2 separate regions of the Homo sapiens genome follow, and region 1 is linked to region 2. The links come from fine-mapping of genetic effects on gene expression. A gene starts in region 2. The other region holds a variant in brackets. All regions are shown on one strand. Distances are from middle to middle.

Evidence for each region.
Region 1: its variant is fine-mapped to the expression of SPMIP6 in cerebellum (GTEx, PIP 0.99).

Annotation. Positions count from the first base shown.
Region 1 is chr9:34,422,455-34,430,785 of GRCh38, reverse strand. The region is part of intron 1 of FAM219A (family with sequence similarity 219 member A); the gene reads left to right. It overlaps LOC124902145 (a long non-coding RNA gene), which reads right to left. Exons shown (of 3, transcript XR_007061465.1): 2 at 8,049-8,148; 3 at 5,941-6,200. Among named protein-coding and RNA genes, the nearest start is that of SPMIP6, 29 kb to the right of the region's middle. The variant C/G (reference allele first, on the strand shown) is at 4,660.
Region 2 is chr9:34,393,418-34,401,748 of GRCh38, reverse strand. It overlaps SPMIP6 (sperm microtubule inner protein 6), which reads left to right and starts at 3,939. Exons shown (of 7, transcript NM_032596.4): 1 at 3,939-4,250. The coding sequence starts at 4,116. It overlaps FAM219A (family with sequence similarity 219 member A), which reads left to right. Exons shown (of 6, transcript NM_001184940.2): 5 at 29-83; 6 at 627-3,565. The coding sequence ends at 785. It overlaps LOC124902144 (a long non-coding RNA gene), which reads right to left. Exons shown (of 2, transcript XR_007061464.1): 2 at 5,415-8,331.

The DNA.
Region 1 (8,331 bases), 29 kb before region 2:
ACTACAGCTTCCACCTCCTAGGCTCAGGTGATCCTCCCACCTCAGCCTCCCGGGTAGCTGGGACTACTGGCATGTACCACCGTGCCCAGCTAATGTTTTTTGTTGTTGTTGTTTGTTTGTTTTTTGTCTTTTTTTTTTTTTTTTTTTTTGAGACGGAGTCTTGCTCTGTCACCCAGGCTGGAGTGCAGTGGCGCGATCTCGGCTCACTGCAAGCTCCACCTCCTGGGTTCACGCCATTCTCCTGCCTCAGCCTCCTGAGTAGCTGGGACTACAAGCGCCCACCACCACACCAGGCTAATTTTTCATATTTTTAGTACAGATGGGGTTTCACCATGTTAGCCAGGATGGTCTCGGTCTCCTGACCTTGTGATCCGCCCACCTCAGCCTCCCAGCATGTGTTTTCTTTTTTTGTTTTGTTTTGTAGAGACAGGGTTTTGACATGTTGCCTAGGCTGGTCTCGAACTCCTGGGCTCAAGAGATCCACCCAACTCAGCCTCCCAGAGTGCTGGGATTACAGGGATGAGCCACTGAGCCCTACCATGCCTATTTAATTTTGCATAGCCTTCCTGCACATGTCTTTCGCTGTGAAAGGGGCATGACCTCTTCTCTTTCCAAGACCAGCCCTGTAGGTCTAGGGATTCCCCCTTATCCCCTCCAGGTGCTGCCCTACCTCCCCCCACACATGTCTAGCTCTCTGTTGAGGTCACCATCACTCTGAAGGTGAAGTAAGCTTGCAAGACAATTATGTCATCTCCCAAGCTGTCCCTGGCCAGGGCCTGATACCCTAATACTTCAGGATAGTAGGAGTCCTGGGGATGGGGTAAGAAACCAGTGGAACAAGGGAATATTAAAAGGTCCTCTGTCTCTAATACCCCTGTACTTCCCTCTTCAATCTGGACGAAGGGAGCATGAAGGAGGGGAAATTAAGGAGAGACACTGAGCAGGTTTCAAGGCCTGAAGCAGGATCCTTTCATGAGCCATCACTGGACTTTCGGCCTACCAATAGGAATATACTTAATTTAAATATGCCTTTTTTTGCAGAGGGAAGGACATTGACATGAGGTGGGTGTTGTAGCAAATGGAAGCAGAAATAAAACTAGCGAGTCTGGAGCTTGCAACCTGCCACCCCAACCCTAGTCATGCACATGGCCCCCAGAGCCCACAAGCAGAGAAGAGTTAAATTCACACTATAGAGGGACTTCCTCCCACTTCCCCAAGTCATGTGTGAGGAGTCTGAAAGGTCAGAAGAATCATAATCATATACTAGGGATTAAATTTTCTGGTTGAAAGTTCCTCCTCTACCTACAGGTCTCTTCCATGGCTAAATGAATCAGAGCAGCTCTCACTTTATGATTCCCTGAGCTGGTGAGTGAGGAGGGTAAGTCTGCCTGGATTGAGGCTCAATGAAAACACTCAGGACCCTGTTCCTCTCAACCAGCCCTGCTCTGAATTTGTGCAAGGCCCTCTTCCTTTTGAGACCTTGTTTTCTTCACCTCTTTTAGGCTTCTGGGTCCCTTATTGAAGGAACTGTCAAGCCCAAAGGCATGCATTATACCTCAAAGAACCTCCTGGTCAAAGAAATTGATGCTAAATAATGAAACCCTGAGAGAACAGCTGCAGGCTCCCTCTTCTAGTGCCAACCAGTCATAATGAGAGGGGAGAGCAAGGAGAAGAAAAGAACTTTTGGTGTTCACTGAGCCTTGAGTACGCCTGGCAGAGTTTGGGCTAGAAGGACTAGGGCTGCCCCCAGCCCACCTCAAGAGGTGTTGCATGATAGTGCTCCTGGAGATGGGGCCGTTGACAATGTAGTAATGAATTTATGGGTGAAAAAATGTGCAGAGGATCTGGATCCAGGCTGTCCCTCAGCTTGGCCTCTCTCTTGCTCCAGGAAACAGCACATTCCAGCTTCCAGCAGAGGCCCTTACTGTGGGTTTAAGCACAGGCTCTTTTAATGCACAAGGAAGCCTGGAGAAGAAACAAGAACAGATGAGGACTTTGCCAGATCCCAAGAGGGTTTGTTTGTGTTGGGTTTTGTTCAAGTGGAACAGACCTAAACTCAGCCAGAGCTCGCTCTCAGTCTGCTCTCAGGGGCAAAGGTGCCCAGTGTTTGTCTTCCTCACAGCGGATGCTCTGTAGTAATTGTTTTATTTAGGAGCTGTGATTATGTGTCCACAAACCTTACTAAATTGAATACAATCCTGAGCATTCAGAAGAAGAAACAGTGCAGGACTCAGGGGAGGGCACAGCTGGCTGCAAACAAGGGCCCATGAATTCTAATCCCAGGGCTGCCATCTGGCATTGACCTGGGAGAACTCATTTACTCTCTACCCTGGAGGCTCTTTCTGGGATCTCAGGGCCTGAATAAAAACAGACCTAGAAGCTCAGAAAGTGAAACAACCTGTCTAGACTCTCAGAGTCAGTGCAGTTCACAGGTAAACTGTTCATAGGCCCTACTCTCTAGACAGGGGTTGTGTTTACTATTCCAGGAGGTTTCTTGCATTTTCCTTTACCATCTGTTTGCCCTTATGTCTAAATCCTGAAGAGTTTCCCTGCCTTGGGTGTTTACTGCCTGTTGAACATGGTTACAAGAACCAGGTTGTCAGAAAGCACTTTGAACAGACAGAGGATCAGAACAGCCCCACTCCTATCTCCCTCCAAAGAGTTTTCTGATGGTTTGGATTCCAAGCTGGTTTCCCATTCTTCCGAACTCAGTAACAAGAGTTGGGCCTTAATCATTTGATTGTGGAAGTATATATCTGCAAGCTAATGGCTGATCTTAGCCCTTTAGTCACAAAGAAGGCTGCATCTATCTGCTCAGTTTGTTGTTAGTCTCCATGAGAAGTTGACCTGAAATTGAGTTGCTGCTTTGGCTGTGGACCTTAAGTGAAGTTTTAACTAGGCCAAGCCTTCAGGTGAGTTGAAGGAGGGTTTGGGGGACTCCTACTTTGGCTGTTCTCCAAAATAACTTTGAGCCCCTGACCAGAGGCTTACAGTGAAGAAGTAGTCCTACAAAGAGCACAAAATGCAACATCTGTCTGTGGGACACCATTAGACAAGACTCCAGCATGGTCTGATAGGTCAGGAGTGTTTGCCACCTCTCTGTTATAGAAAGATCCTTGCTATGCCTTCAAATCAAGTAGAAGGCAGTGTTTGTCTTTTCAGATTATGGCCTTTCATTTTCTATGCCAAGCATTGGGAGGACATAGTGGAGGCAGGCATGGTCCCTACCTTCACGAACATTTATTAAACAAATTATACAAATAGTCATTTAAATAAAATTTGCTAAGTGCATGAAAGAAATGTATGGGGGAGCAGGGGCTGTGAGACTACATTATAGAAGGATCTAACTGAGCCTGGCATTTATGGGAAGCTTCTTTTAAGAGGTGATGTGTCCCAGCCTGGGCAACGTAGACTCCATGTCAACAAAAATATGTATGTATACAAAAATTAGCCAGGTGTGGTGGCGTGCACCTGTAGTCCCAGCTACTTGGGAGGCTGAGGTAGGTGGATCACTTGAGCCCAGGAGGCTGAGGCTGCAGTGAGCCGAGATTGCGCCACTGCACTCCAGCCTGGGCAACTGAGTAAGGCACTGTCTCAAAAAAACAAGAGGTGATGTGTGTCAGCTGAGGCCTGAAGGATGTAGTAAAATTTAACCAGAAGGGGAGCATGAGGTTAAAAAGGATATTGATACCCCATCAGGAGTAAAGAAGACCAGTGTGCAAACTAGTAAGCCTGGGGAAGAGTGGCACAAGATGAGGTTGGGGAGATAGAAGTAAAGGCAAGTGACTACTCCTTTGCCATCATTCTTAGCCTGGTCTGGAGAAAAAAAAAAAAAGTGCTGGTTGAGACCACCCAAACTGCTGTTCCATCTTCCTAGCAGCAGGGGCCTCACAGGAATGCTCAGGGAGAGGTGCTTCTAGCCCCAACCTGGGGATCACACAAATGGAATGGTCCTCACCTGGCAGCCCAGTTCAGAGGAGGGAGGAGGAAGAAAGACTAGGCACTCACTTTCCCTGCAATCCTCTCTCTATTTTTCCATTGCTCTGAACTGTTTATTAATACATGACAGAAGCCATTTCCCTATTTAGATGGTTCTGCTGGGAATTCCACACCACCACCATCCCTCCTGAGGCAGATTTTAAAGTCAGCTTTCAAGATTTTATACTTGGATTTCAGAAACTAAATTACATTACTACGTCCAGTGAAACGGCGCCATTGCCTGTTCCTATCTGCATGCTCCAGGCACTGTGAGGCCGATAACATCAGCATGTCAAAGCAGCTCGATCCAGACAATTTGCAGCTAGCTAGAGCTGGGCTATTGGTGGGGAAGGGGAGGATGAAAAATTATCTCAGAATCCAAAACAGCCCAGGGTGTACTATAGACTAGGATCTGGGATTTTTGGGTTCTTTCTATATACCATCATTTCTCCTATCTATAAAGATACAACTCATCTTAGCCCCACCTGGACATAACAAGGAGCTGAAAATTCCTCTCCTAAACATAGGAACAGGACAAAATCACTGATGTTTCAACATTCGGGATGTTTTCATTGGAGTGTAAAATAGAAGGGAGTGGTGGAAAGAGTGAAAGTCATTATATAAAAAATTCAGGATCCTACTGCCTGTGAAATTAGGTGTCCATATAAAAGCCAAAATACT[C/G]CTTGAATGGCTATTCTGTGCTTCTGTGAAGCCCAGATGTGAAGGCCTTATAACTAACCCTCTGACAGCCACAAGGTTGCAGAGTAGGTGAAGACAAACTATTGCTCCCCTGATAGGAACAAAGGAATTTTGGAGTTTCTAATTCTAACCAAATTTAATTGTACAGAACAAGCATTCCCTTCACAACAAAAATATTTCAGCCTATTGGGTTACTTAAAATGCACCAAATAGCATAAAACATTCATTCAACTCTAACAGCATTCACAGACCTACTTTTGTAAATAGCCAAGCACAGGCTGTTCTTTCCCAGAATATGATTTTTTTTTTAAATAATGCAGTAGGTCCGCAAGGTCAGAGTTTTGGGAAAAGTCAGTCTAACCTCATTGAGGCTGCCAGTCCTCTGCCCTCGTGTGAGCCTGGCTTTCCTGCACCTCAGTGCACTGCCCACTCACTCATAGGTGTCAGTGTTTGCATGCAGGAGACAGAAGAACAAGGATCTCCCCTTAACACTAACTGCACATTTTTCAACTTCTCCAAGCACAGTGGAGGCATGCAGGTTACTGACTACATTACTGGCTCTGAAGACTAATAATTAAGTCAAGTGATTATTTTTATTTATTCATTTGTTTATTTTATTTATTTATTTAAGACAGAGTTTTGTTCTTGTTGCCCAGGCTGGAGTGCAGTGGCACGATCTCGGCTCACTGCAACCTCCGCCTCCCAGGTTCATGAGATTCTCCTGCCTCAGCCTCCCGAGTAGCTGGGATTACAGGCACCCACCACCATGTCCAGCTAATTTTTGTATTTTTGGTAGAGACGGGGTTGCACCATGTTGGCCAGGCTGGTCTCAAACTCCTGACCTCAGGTGATCTGCCTGCCTTGGCCCCCCAAAGTGCTGGATTACAGGTATGAGCCACTGTGGGCCTCATTTGTTTATTTTTACAGAAAACTATTATTGAAGGGTTTAAATGTGAGAAAGTTTTGACTAGGCATAAGGAATAATAATAATAAAAGTGAGAAAGGGCTGGGCGCGGTGGCTCATGCCTGTAATTCCAGCACTTTGGGAGGCCGAGGGGGTAGATCGCTTGAGCTCAGGAGTCTGAGACAAGCCTGGGCAACATGGCAAAACCCCATCTCTACCAAAACTACAAAAAATTAGCTGGGTGTGGTGGTACACACCTGTAGTCCTAGTTCCTCGGGAGGCTAAGGTGGCAGGTTGCTTGAGCTGAGGTGGAGATTGCAGTGACCTGAGGTCGTGCCATTGCACTCCAGCCTGAGTGACAGAGTGAGACCCTATTTCAAAAAACAAAAAGGTGAGAAAGCATGATTACCACATAACAGAGTATAGGTTCCATGGTTGAGCCTCCCTCTGGATGTTCACTGTTGGTGGAACAAGTGTTGTGGGTTCTGGGAAAATCGCAACGCAGGCTGCTCCTCTCTGTGTTCTGGATTCTCAGGCCACTCCTGGTAGGTCCGTGTTGGCTTTGGCCCCCTGCCTCAAGGACTAGAAGTCAAGGGTCTTTGCTGCTTTTTGCCATAGCCTGGGGACGATAGGCCAAAACTAAGTCAGGGGACTCTGGTGCAGCCAGAATTTGGGGCGACTACCCACCTAACTGCTTACTATTGCCTCTAGTTTGGCCAAGCCCTGGTCAGCCTCCCTTGCCTTCAGCCCACCCCTTGCCCACACTTCCTAAAAGATAGCAAATGTGCCATGATCTCTGGACCGTGACTGGACTTTTCTACTAGAGAATGTCTCTCGGTGAGGACTTGCAAGCCTCACAAGAATCAGACCCATAATTTCTTAGAACAAAATAAGTTTTTGCTGAAATATCAGCAAGCCTGAGAACAGCATCTTGAGTCCTCCCTCATGTCTTCAAACAAGTGGCCATTCTATGCTGGTTCTTTCTCCCGGCCTCAACTATTTTCCAGTCTCTCTTGTCATACAAGAGCCCCTCTAGGACTCCGGTTCTGGTTCCTCTGTCTTACATTATTCTTCTCAAAACTCTGCCTTTCCTAGACATCCATGACTCTGATCTCTTCTTGGTTCCCTACCCCTCTGACCGTAGCTGTCAGTCTTCTGCTTACTTTTTCAATATTGGTGTTCCTTAATTTTTTTTCTCTAAGCCCTTCTTATTTATAAACATACACATATTTACACACAAAACAAAACCACAAGCCTTACTCTTATTTCTGTTTCTCCATCTTATTTGGTGGCATCACAATTCACGCAGTCACCTGAGTCAGGAGGAAACCTGGGAGTCATCCTAGCTCAAGTCTTTTCCCTCAAACCCAGATCCAGTCAGCCTTAGTGCCCCAGCGGTTTGACCTCAACATGTTTTTCTTCTCCACCTCCTTTTTTCCAACCCCACTGACACTGACTTTTTCAAGCTTTGTCACCTACTGCAATGACCTTTATCTAGCCTCCCTGCCTCCAGTTTAATCATTCCTGCCTATTCCTTGGACCTGCTCCCAGAGCAGTCAGTCTATCTAAATCTGACAATGGGCTGAAAATCCTTCAGTGGCTCCCCATTATTTCCAGGTGAAGTCCAAAACCCTGAACATATCTTACAAAGCCCTTCATGATTTTAAGTCTTCCTGTCATTCTAGACTCATCACCTGCCACTTCGTCCCCTAACATTAACATTCTAGTAAAATTGACCTGTTCTTTTTGCCTGCTCTATAGTCATGTGCATCTTTCCCACCAGTCCTTTCTCTTCTTTTTTCTTTTTGTTTGCCACTCCTTTCCTCATCTGGTTCACTAATACTTCCTATTCTTGCTTCCTCCATCAGTTTTCTTTGGAGAAGTCCTCCCTAATTCCCCAGAGTGGGATAGTTGCCTCTGTCCTGTACACATACAAACCTCTGTCATAGCACTCAGCATATGATTAAAATTATCTGCTTATTCACTTGCTTCACTCACTGGCTTATGAGCTCTTCATGGGCAGGGGCCTTATTATTGTTATTATTATTTAGAAGAAGGGGTCTCACTCTGTCGCTCTGTGCAATCATGGCTCACTACAGCCTCAACCTCCCAGGCTCAAGTGATCCTCCCACCTCAGCCTTCTGAGTAGCTAGGACTACAGACACGTGCCACCATGCCGGGCTAATTTTCTTTAATTTTTCTGTAGAAATGGAGTCCTACTATGTTGCCCAGGCTGGTCTCAAACTCCTGGGCTCAAGCAATCCTTCCACTTCGGCCTTCCAAAGTGCTGGGATTACAGGTGTGAGCCACCGCGCCCAGCCCATATTATTTTTATATGTCCAGAACCCAGCACAGTGCCTAGAATATAGATGCCCTTAAAATGTAGGACCAGAACTGAATTTGGTGGCTAAGGCCCCTTTCATCTCCTTTTCTTGCACTGCCCTCTTCTTTTGTCTCCTGGGCTCACCATTCTCAGTTTCCAACGCATTTTCTTTCTTGTTGCTTCCTGCCAGTCTCTCTCTCCATCTTGAGCTATCGACTGCTTCAGTGGCTCCAATATTTCCTTCCTGTGGAGAACTCAATTGAGCAGGAAGCTTGTGATCAGAAAGCATCCATGCTATTTTCTAAAGAGGGGCTACAAGTTTGTGTTGAGCTCCAGAGACATGATTGAACTAGGTACCAGCCTTCCAAGTGACTGCTTTGCAAGACAACAGTCCCACAGAGGTGTAAGTTCTGGTACGTTGTTAATC
Region 2 (8,331 bases):
ACTTTCCCTCTCTTTCCTCCATGGCCAGCGATGATGACTTTGACATGTCTAGATACTCCTCCTCCGGCTACTCCTCTGCTGAGGTGAGCCCCTACCCCTTCTCACCCTAGACACCACCGGGCAGGATCACTGCCATCCCGGGGGAGGGCTGGGGCCAATGCCCAAGTACAAGGAAAAAGAGGGCTGGGCAAGGCTGGGTGGTGCCCTGCACAGGGTGGGCCTGGGATAGGATGGAAGAGAAGTGGTTACTGGCCTCAAGTGCATGGAGCCCAGGGTTAGGAGTGGGGCTTTAGATTGCAGCAGGCCATTTAAATAGAATGGGTGTAAAATACAGGTGATATCCTCTAGTAGCCGGCCTGAGATAGGGGCAAAACCCGAATAGGAGCAGGACCAGAGGTGTGAAGTTGACCATAGAATGGGGAGGGGTGACTAGAAAGAGAGGCCAGAGGCGAAGGAGGGCGCCTAGGCAGGAGCGGGGCCTGGGGGTACAGACAGACCCGGGACAGGGCGGGGCTGATATCCAGGGCACTGGCTGGACTGGGGCGCAGACGGCCTGGAGTGGCCGCAGAGCTGTGGGTGGTGCCTCCCTGCCGCTCGGGCCTGACCTCCCTCCCCTTTGCCTACAGCAGATCAACCAAGATTTGAACATCCAGCTGCTGAAGGACGGCTACCGGTTAGATGAGATCCCCGACGACGAGGACCTAGACCTCATCCCCCCCAAGTCCGTGAACCCCACGTGCATGTGCTGCCAGGCCACGTCCTCCACCGCCTGCCACATTCAGTAGCGGGCGGGGCCACTGCGGTCGCCGGGGCGGGGCCGCCAAGGGCCGGGTAGGACGGGCAGAGGCCGACCCCTTCCCAGCTCGTCTGCCTGCCCCCGGCCCCGCGCCCCTACAGCCGCCAACCTCGTATAACAGTCATTGCTTCCTCCTATGGTAGGACGTGTACCTCTGTGTGTTCATGGAGCTGGAGAAACCAAAACTGGGTCTCTCTCCACCCGGGAGCTGAGGAGGGGTGGGGGCCGTTTGTTCAGTTACCTGGGGGAACCTCACCCAGCACCCTGCCCCGCTTCCCAGGGCTGGCCAAGAGAGAAGACTGGACGGCAGGGAGGTCAACATTAACGAGTGGGGGGATCACAAAGCCAGGGGCTTGGCCCCACCCCAGCGAAGCCATGAACTCCCAAGCCCCGGCCTCAGCCTAACCAGGAAAGGGGCTCGGAGGGAGAAAGGCCCAGGGCAGTGGGGACGGGTCCCAGCACCTCGGAGCCCCCTTCACACGCCCCCTACCGGCCCATGTTTCTATTTGCATTTCCCCCTCCTCAGATGGGAAGCCTGGCAAAGCTGCCCAACCGGGTAGTGCCCCTCACCCATCGGATCACTGCCTTCTTCCTCCTCTTGCCCCATTCACCCGCTTCCTTGCACTCTGGGAGTGGGGCAGGGTAAGGTGGGCCTTACAGACAGGCTGAGGTTTGGGTGGTGTGATCTGTCCTAATTGGCCCCTCACCAATGCATCTATCTGTCTGCCACCAGCCCACCCCACCCTGCCCCCACCCTCACCCACGCTTCTGCTCATTGGTCTCAATCCCAGCCTGGAAGCAGGGAGTAAGGCTGGACTCCAATGGCCCATTCCCCTCACCCCAGCCCAAGACGTGGGAGGCTGCTTCCCAGTAAGAATCCAGGAGCAAGCTTTGGTGAATCCAGTGGGCTGAGTGGCTCTATGGATGTGGTTGTTTGGATGTGGTAGGGAGTGCTTAGCAGAATGTGTGTGTATCTCTGAGGCTGTCAGGGGGTGGGTGGGTGTGTGTCTCTGTTGGACCTGTCTCTCCTCAGTCTATTCCTGTCATAGATGTGGGTGTCCCTGGTAGGGAAGTGCCTGTGTGGTCTGTTTACAGTGCAGAAGGCGGCTCAGCAGTGCAATGGGCTGACAGCCTTGGACCGGGAGTCAGAAGCCTGGGTTCTGGTTGTAGCTCTGGCCCCTCCCTGTGATCTTCAACAAGCCACTTGCTTTCTCTCGTCTTCAGTTTCCTCAACTAGAAAATGAACAGCAGCTGAAATTATGTTGAAGATCCTTTTATACCTGAAAGAGTTTCTTCATAGAAATTTCTGTGGTGGGGAGGGGGCAATCTCTGTGTGTCTCAGTATACCTAAAGGTTGGGGTGGGGCGGAGTTGTGTGTCTCTGTAGAAAGGCGAAGGGGCAGTTCCTATCAGGACTGTGTATGTCTGAGCACATGTGGCTCTGTTTGGGATTACGTGTTTGTCTGTGAATGTGTGTGTGTGTTGGAGGGTTGTCTATTGTGTGTGGCTGTATAGGGTGTCTGTAGATCAAGATGTGTATACAGCTGCTTCTGCTATTGCTGGTTTGGGGGAGGGGACTGGAAAGCTGAGACTGAAAATCAAGAGGGAAGAGGTGAGGAAGGCCCACCCCTGGGGCTGGGCAGTGTAGACCTGCCACCGTGTGAAGAAAAATGAAAGCACAGATAGCCTAAGACTGCACAGGCCTGTGCCCACATACCTTATAGCACAGGCCCAGGTGGATCATCTCATGCTAACACCCCACATGTGCTGGTGGATCCACTCCCATGGATCCACTCACATGCTGCAGGCATGCAGTAGACTCACCCACAGCCCACTCTCTGGACACCAATCCTGGGAGGTGGGAGCTGGAATGGGGAGCAATGAGAGGAGGGAGTGAGACTGTTGGCTTAGGAAGGGTGGTACCTCTCCCTGCATCATACCCAGGAACTGCCAGCTCCAAAATATTGGGGTACAGCTCACCACCCCCCACTCCGCCAACCCATTCCTACCTCCTCTAGTGCAGGGACCCAAGTTAGATGATGAGAAAATGCCAAACAAAGGGAGGCAAGGACAGAGAAGGTACCTGCAGGACCCACAAGGCCCATACTGGCCCCCATCTGAACCCACCTCTCCCACCCAGATCAACATCCCCCCAACCCCTGTGCCCCCATCATCTGGACCCCAGAGCCAGCCCTCCCACTACCACCACCACCACCCCGGGGCTCCTTGGCTCACCTTTCTAGAACATGGGTACCTCCTCTTTTTGGGGGCTCATTTAGACTGCTGCCTTTGCTGCTGACTTGCAGTGTGACTCGGGCCCATTGTTCAATCTCTGTGGCCCTGAGACACCAGGGAAAATCTCCCCCCCCACAGGACATACTAGTTCCCTGGCAGGCAAGGGCTTCCAACTGAGGCAGTGCATGTGTGGCAGAGAGAGGCAGGAAGCTGGCAGTGGCAGCTTCTGTGTCTAGGGAGGGGTGTGGCTCCCTCCTTCCCTGTCTGGGAGGTTGGAGGGAAGAATCTAGGCCTTAGCTTGCCCTCCTGCCACCCTTCCCCTTGTAGATACTGCCTTAACACTCCCTCCTCTCTCAGCTGTGGCTGCCACCCAGCCAGGTTTCTCCGTGCTCACTAATTTATTTCCAGGAAGGTGTGTGGAAGACATGAGCCGTGTATAATATTTTTTTTAACATTTTCATTGCAGTATTGACCATCATCCTTGGTTGTGTATCGTGTAACACAAATAATGATATTAAAAGCATCAAACAAGCCAGCCTCAGCTCCCTCCCTGGGGTGTGGGCAAGGGGCAGATGGGCTGGGAAGCAGACAGAACTGGTCCTCTGGGCACACATGTTACTCCACCTCCACCTGTGGGTTCCCAGGCATGCCACTGACCTGCTGCATGACCCTGGGTGAGTCACAACCCCTCCGAACCTCTGTTTCTCTTCAACAGTGAGAAACCTGACCTAGAAGATCTCCAGAGGCCCTCTGAACTCTTAGAAATTGGGCTCTTTTGATAGGCTTGAGGCAGGAGGGGGTCAGGAGCAGGGAGGGAATTAGACCTCCTCACCTTCCCAGGGATGGGGCTGAGCCAGGTGATATCACAATGGGCAGTGCCCATCCTGGAGGGGGCATCAGTGTGGGGTGGGAGCAGGAAGGCTGTTGGGGAAGGAAGCTGAGAGATCCTCTGCAGGAGGGGATTATAGCAGCTAAGGGCACCTGCCAGGCTGGAGGTGTGGCCTGTCTAGGGGAAGGGTGGTCACTGATGTCCAGCAGGAGCCCTTGACAGGTAGAGCCCACCACGGCATCTCCAAGACCACACCATGTTCCTGTTCTCCCGTAAGACCAGGACCCCTATCAGTACCTACAGTGACTCCTACAGGGCTCCCACCTCCATCAAGGAGGTCTATAAGGACCCACCCCTGTGTGCCTGGGAAGCCAACAAGTTTCTGACTCCGGTAAGTGGGAGATTGGTGGGGAGGGGCAGGCCAGAGTGTATGGCCAGTCTGGATGCCTGGCAATGTATGTTTGTAATGATTTGTAGCTTTGTGTATGTGTGTGTTTTATTCATTTACCTAGGCACAGAATTTACAATGGTATGTAAAACAGCACAAAATCCTGCCTTCATGGAATTACATTAGGGTAGGAGGTAGGAACAGGCAGATAATAAGAAATAAACATGAGTTTTATAAATTCTTCAAAAATACTGTAAAGGAAATAAACAGAGTAGTGGAAGTGGAAATGGAAAGGGAGGGCTACTTAGGTCATGGAAAACCCTCTCTCAAGGTGACAATAAACTGAGACTGGAAAGATGAGATAGAACTAGCCACATGAAGACCTGAAAGAATAGAAGAGCTGAAAGTTCCAGACAAGTGATCACAAAGTGCAAAGGCCCTGAGGCTGCCTGTGGAATAGGCCGGAAACTGTCCTATATGCATGCCTTTATCTATATGTATCACAGTTTACTTGTGTCTGTGCTTGAAGATTGGTGGCCAGGTGGGAGGAAATCTGTGAGTCTAACTGTGACTCTGCCTAAGAGAATTTATCTGTGTGTACCATCCAACTTTGCTGAGTATCTTCATCTGTAGGCAACCCAGGATACAAAAGGGAAGGGCCAGCCCTTGCCTTTGAGGAGCTCACAGCAAACAAGTGAACAAAGTAGAGTTGCCCGATGTGGAACATGCACCAGCAGAGGTGGAGAGCCAGAAAGGGGAGAGCGCTGCCCAACCTGAAGGGCAGACCTACTGAGGGATCCAGGAGGAGGAGGCTTCCAGCAGAAGACAGTCAGGAGAAAAGGCAGCCTGTGGGCAGGGACCTACCAGAAACTGAAACTGTTAGAGCAGGAGAGTTTAGTCCTTGGGTGAGAGAGGAGTCTGCAGACCAAGAAGGGCCTCTCTGGCTATGTTGTGGAGCGTGGACATAAGGCTCCAGGTTTTTGAACCTGGGAGGGAGAGTCATGGTTCAATTGTGAGTTAGGCCACTCTGGCCACAGTGTCAGGGAATTGCAGGGGCTGGGGTTGAGGGCAGGAAGGCCAGCGAGGGGTGAACAGATGAGGAAGGAGGATGTAGGTGGGAGATAAGGAGATTGTCACAATGAAAAAAGGAATTCGTTGAATAGGAGAGAATTTTTAAAATAATTTATTTTGTCTAACTCCAAAATAAATATACGCTGAATGTAGAAAATGCAGATAACTCAGAGAAGCACAAAGAAAAAAGGTCTAAAATCCTACTACCTAAAATTACCATTGTTAATATATTATCGTATGCCCTTTCAGGAAGCAAATATTGTTTATTATAAAAATAAATAAAATTTATTACAAAATGGTGTATTTAAGGAATCTTATTGAAAATTTAGGTACTTTATAAAATTTTGCTAGTATAATCATTCTTATACATGTATCTTTGTACACATTTCCAATTATTCCCTTAGGATAAATTACTAGACATGAAATTGTTAGGAGAAAAGATATACACATTTTTAAAACTTTTGCTATATACCTCAAATTGCCATAATAAGTAAGGGTTGTAACAATTTACATTTCCACAAGCAAAATATGAGAGTGCCTGACTCCATACTCAATAGAAGGGAATTTTAAAAAGTAGATGAACAGATTTTGGTCACCATATGGATGGTAAGGTGAGAGATTAGGGTGACCCTTGAGTTTTTGGCTGTGGCAGCTGGAGGAATGCTAATGCTATCAACTGAGGTTTGGAATAACAGATTAGAGATTTGGAGTTCATTTGAGAACAAAAATATTTGAGGATATCCAGGAAAAGATGTTTGGCAAGTAGTTAGATATACTTATCTGAAGCAAAGGAAAGAGGTCTGGGTTATAGATAGAGATCTTGAAGTCATCATCATATAAATGGTGGGTGAAGTCATAGGAAGAGATGAAATTGCCAAAGAAGAGAGAGAAAATGGCCAAGGACATAACTTTGGAGAATATAAATATTTAAGGGTAGGTAAAGGAAAAAAAGCCATAAAAGAAGACAGAGAATTATTGCCAGAGAACTAGGAGGAAAATCAAAGATAAACCAATAAAGACAGCATTATTAGACAAAGATCAGTGTCAAGTGTTAGTGACAGAGAAATCTCTCGGATGTAGTAACTCTTGGTAACTTAGCCAGACAGCTTCAATGAATGGCGAGGAGTGAAAGTCAGATAGCAGTGGTATTAAGAATGAAGGAAAAGCCAGGCATGGTGTCTCAGGCCAGTAATCCAAGCACTTTGGGAGGTTGAAGCAGACAGGAAGATTGCTTGAGCCTACGAGTTCAAGACCAGCCTGGGCATCATGGTGAAATCCTGTCTCTACCAAAAATACAAAGATTAGCCAGGTGCAGTGGCATGTGCCCATAGTCCCAGCTACTCGGGAGGCTGAGATAGAATCACTTGAGCCCAGGAGGTTGAGGCTGCAGTGAGCCTTGATCACACCACTTTACTCCAGCCTGGATGACAGAGCGAGGCCCTGTCTCTTAAAAAAAAAAAAAAAGAATGAAGGAAAAGCTGCTGCTTTTGGCAGTATGGTGGTCTAGAAACTCTGAAGGGCCCTGTTGCTTCAAAACAACTTAAGTTCTGAATAAAAATTAATTTTTATTTTGTGTTGGAGTCTCATGGAGATGAGTGGTAAGTATAGTTAAGAAGACAGGATTGTCCTGAGGACAAATGCCATTATTAGCACTATAAACAGGCATTTAAGCCTTAAACTAGCTGAAAGATAGAGGAATTAAATCTGTACATTCCAAACTTAACCAGAAAGTTCCATGTCTCTGCCCCCCAACACACACCCCACACACACATATTTATCTTCAATGGCGGTAAACATCCTCAGTGTAGGTTTCCAGGTATCCTTTGAAGAACGGCCAATTAAACATGAGCTCACAATAAGAGATAAAAGAAAACAAACCACCATATTACAGAATCTGCAGACACAACAAACAATAAACTTAAACTCCCAAGAATTTCAGATATTAGAATTAACAGTTAAATAATATAGAATAATTGGGCCGGGTGCAGTGGCTCACAGCTGTAATCCCAGCACTTTGGGAGGCCGAGGTGGGTGGATCATGAGGTCAGGAGATCGAGACCATCCTGGCTAACACGGTGAAACCCCATCTCTACTAAAAATATAAAAAATTAGCCGGGCATGGTGGTGGATGCCTGTAGTCCCAGCTACTCAGGAGGCTGAGGCAGGAGAATGGTGTGAACCCAGGAGGCAGAGCTTGCAATGAGCCAAGATCATGCCACCGCACTCCAGCCTGGGTGACAGAGCAAGACTCCATCTCAAAAAATAATAATATAGAATAATTATGATTTTTTAAAAATGTGAAATCTGGCCAGGCATAGTGGCTCATGCCTGTAGTAATCCCAGTACTTTGGAAGGCTGAGACAGGAAGATCACTTGAGGCCAAGAGTTCAAGACTAGCCTAGGCAACATAGTGAGACCTTGTCTCTATTTAAAAAATAAAAATACGAAATCATTAAAATAAGCAAGCAATAAGAGATTATTAAAAAATGAGTAGGCAAATGTAAAAAGGAACTGAATAGAATTTTTAGAAATGAAAAATGTATTTGCTAAACCAAAAATTCAGCAGATGGATTAAAGAGTAGAGTCAACACAGCTGAAAAGTCCAGTGAAATGAAAAATAGACTGAAAAAATTTTCCCAGAACGCAGCACAGAGAGACAAAGAGATGAAAATATGAAAGAAACATTAAATGATATGAAAGACAGAATGAGAAGATCCCACAAACATCTAATGGGAATCTCAGAAGGAAAGAGCATAAAGAACAGTTATTATTTAAAAAGAAAAAGGCTCAGAATTTTCCAGAACTAACAAAATAAATGAATCCACAAATAGAGAAAAAAAATAGAAGAAATTCCACAGTTAGGCACCTCACAATGAAACTGCAGTTCACCAGCTTAAGAGATGACCTTAAAAACAGACAAAGAAAAAAAATTCTCGAAGTGTCATCCTTTCAAAAACCAAGGAAAGATAAGACATTTACAGGAAAACAATGAAAATGTTTATTACCCTCAGGT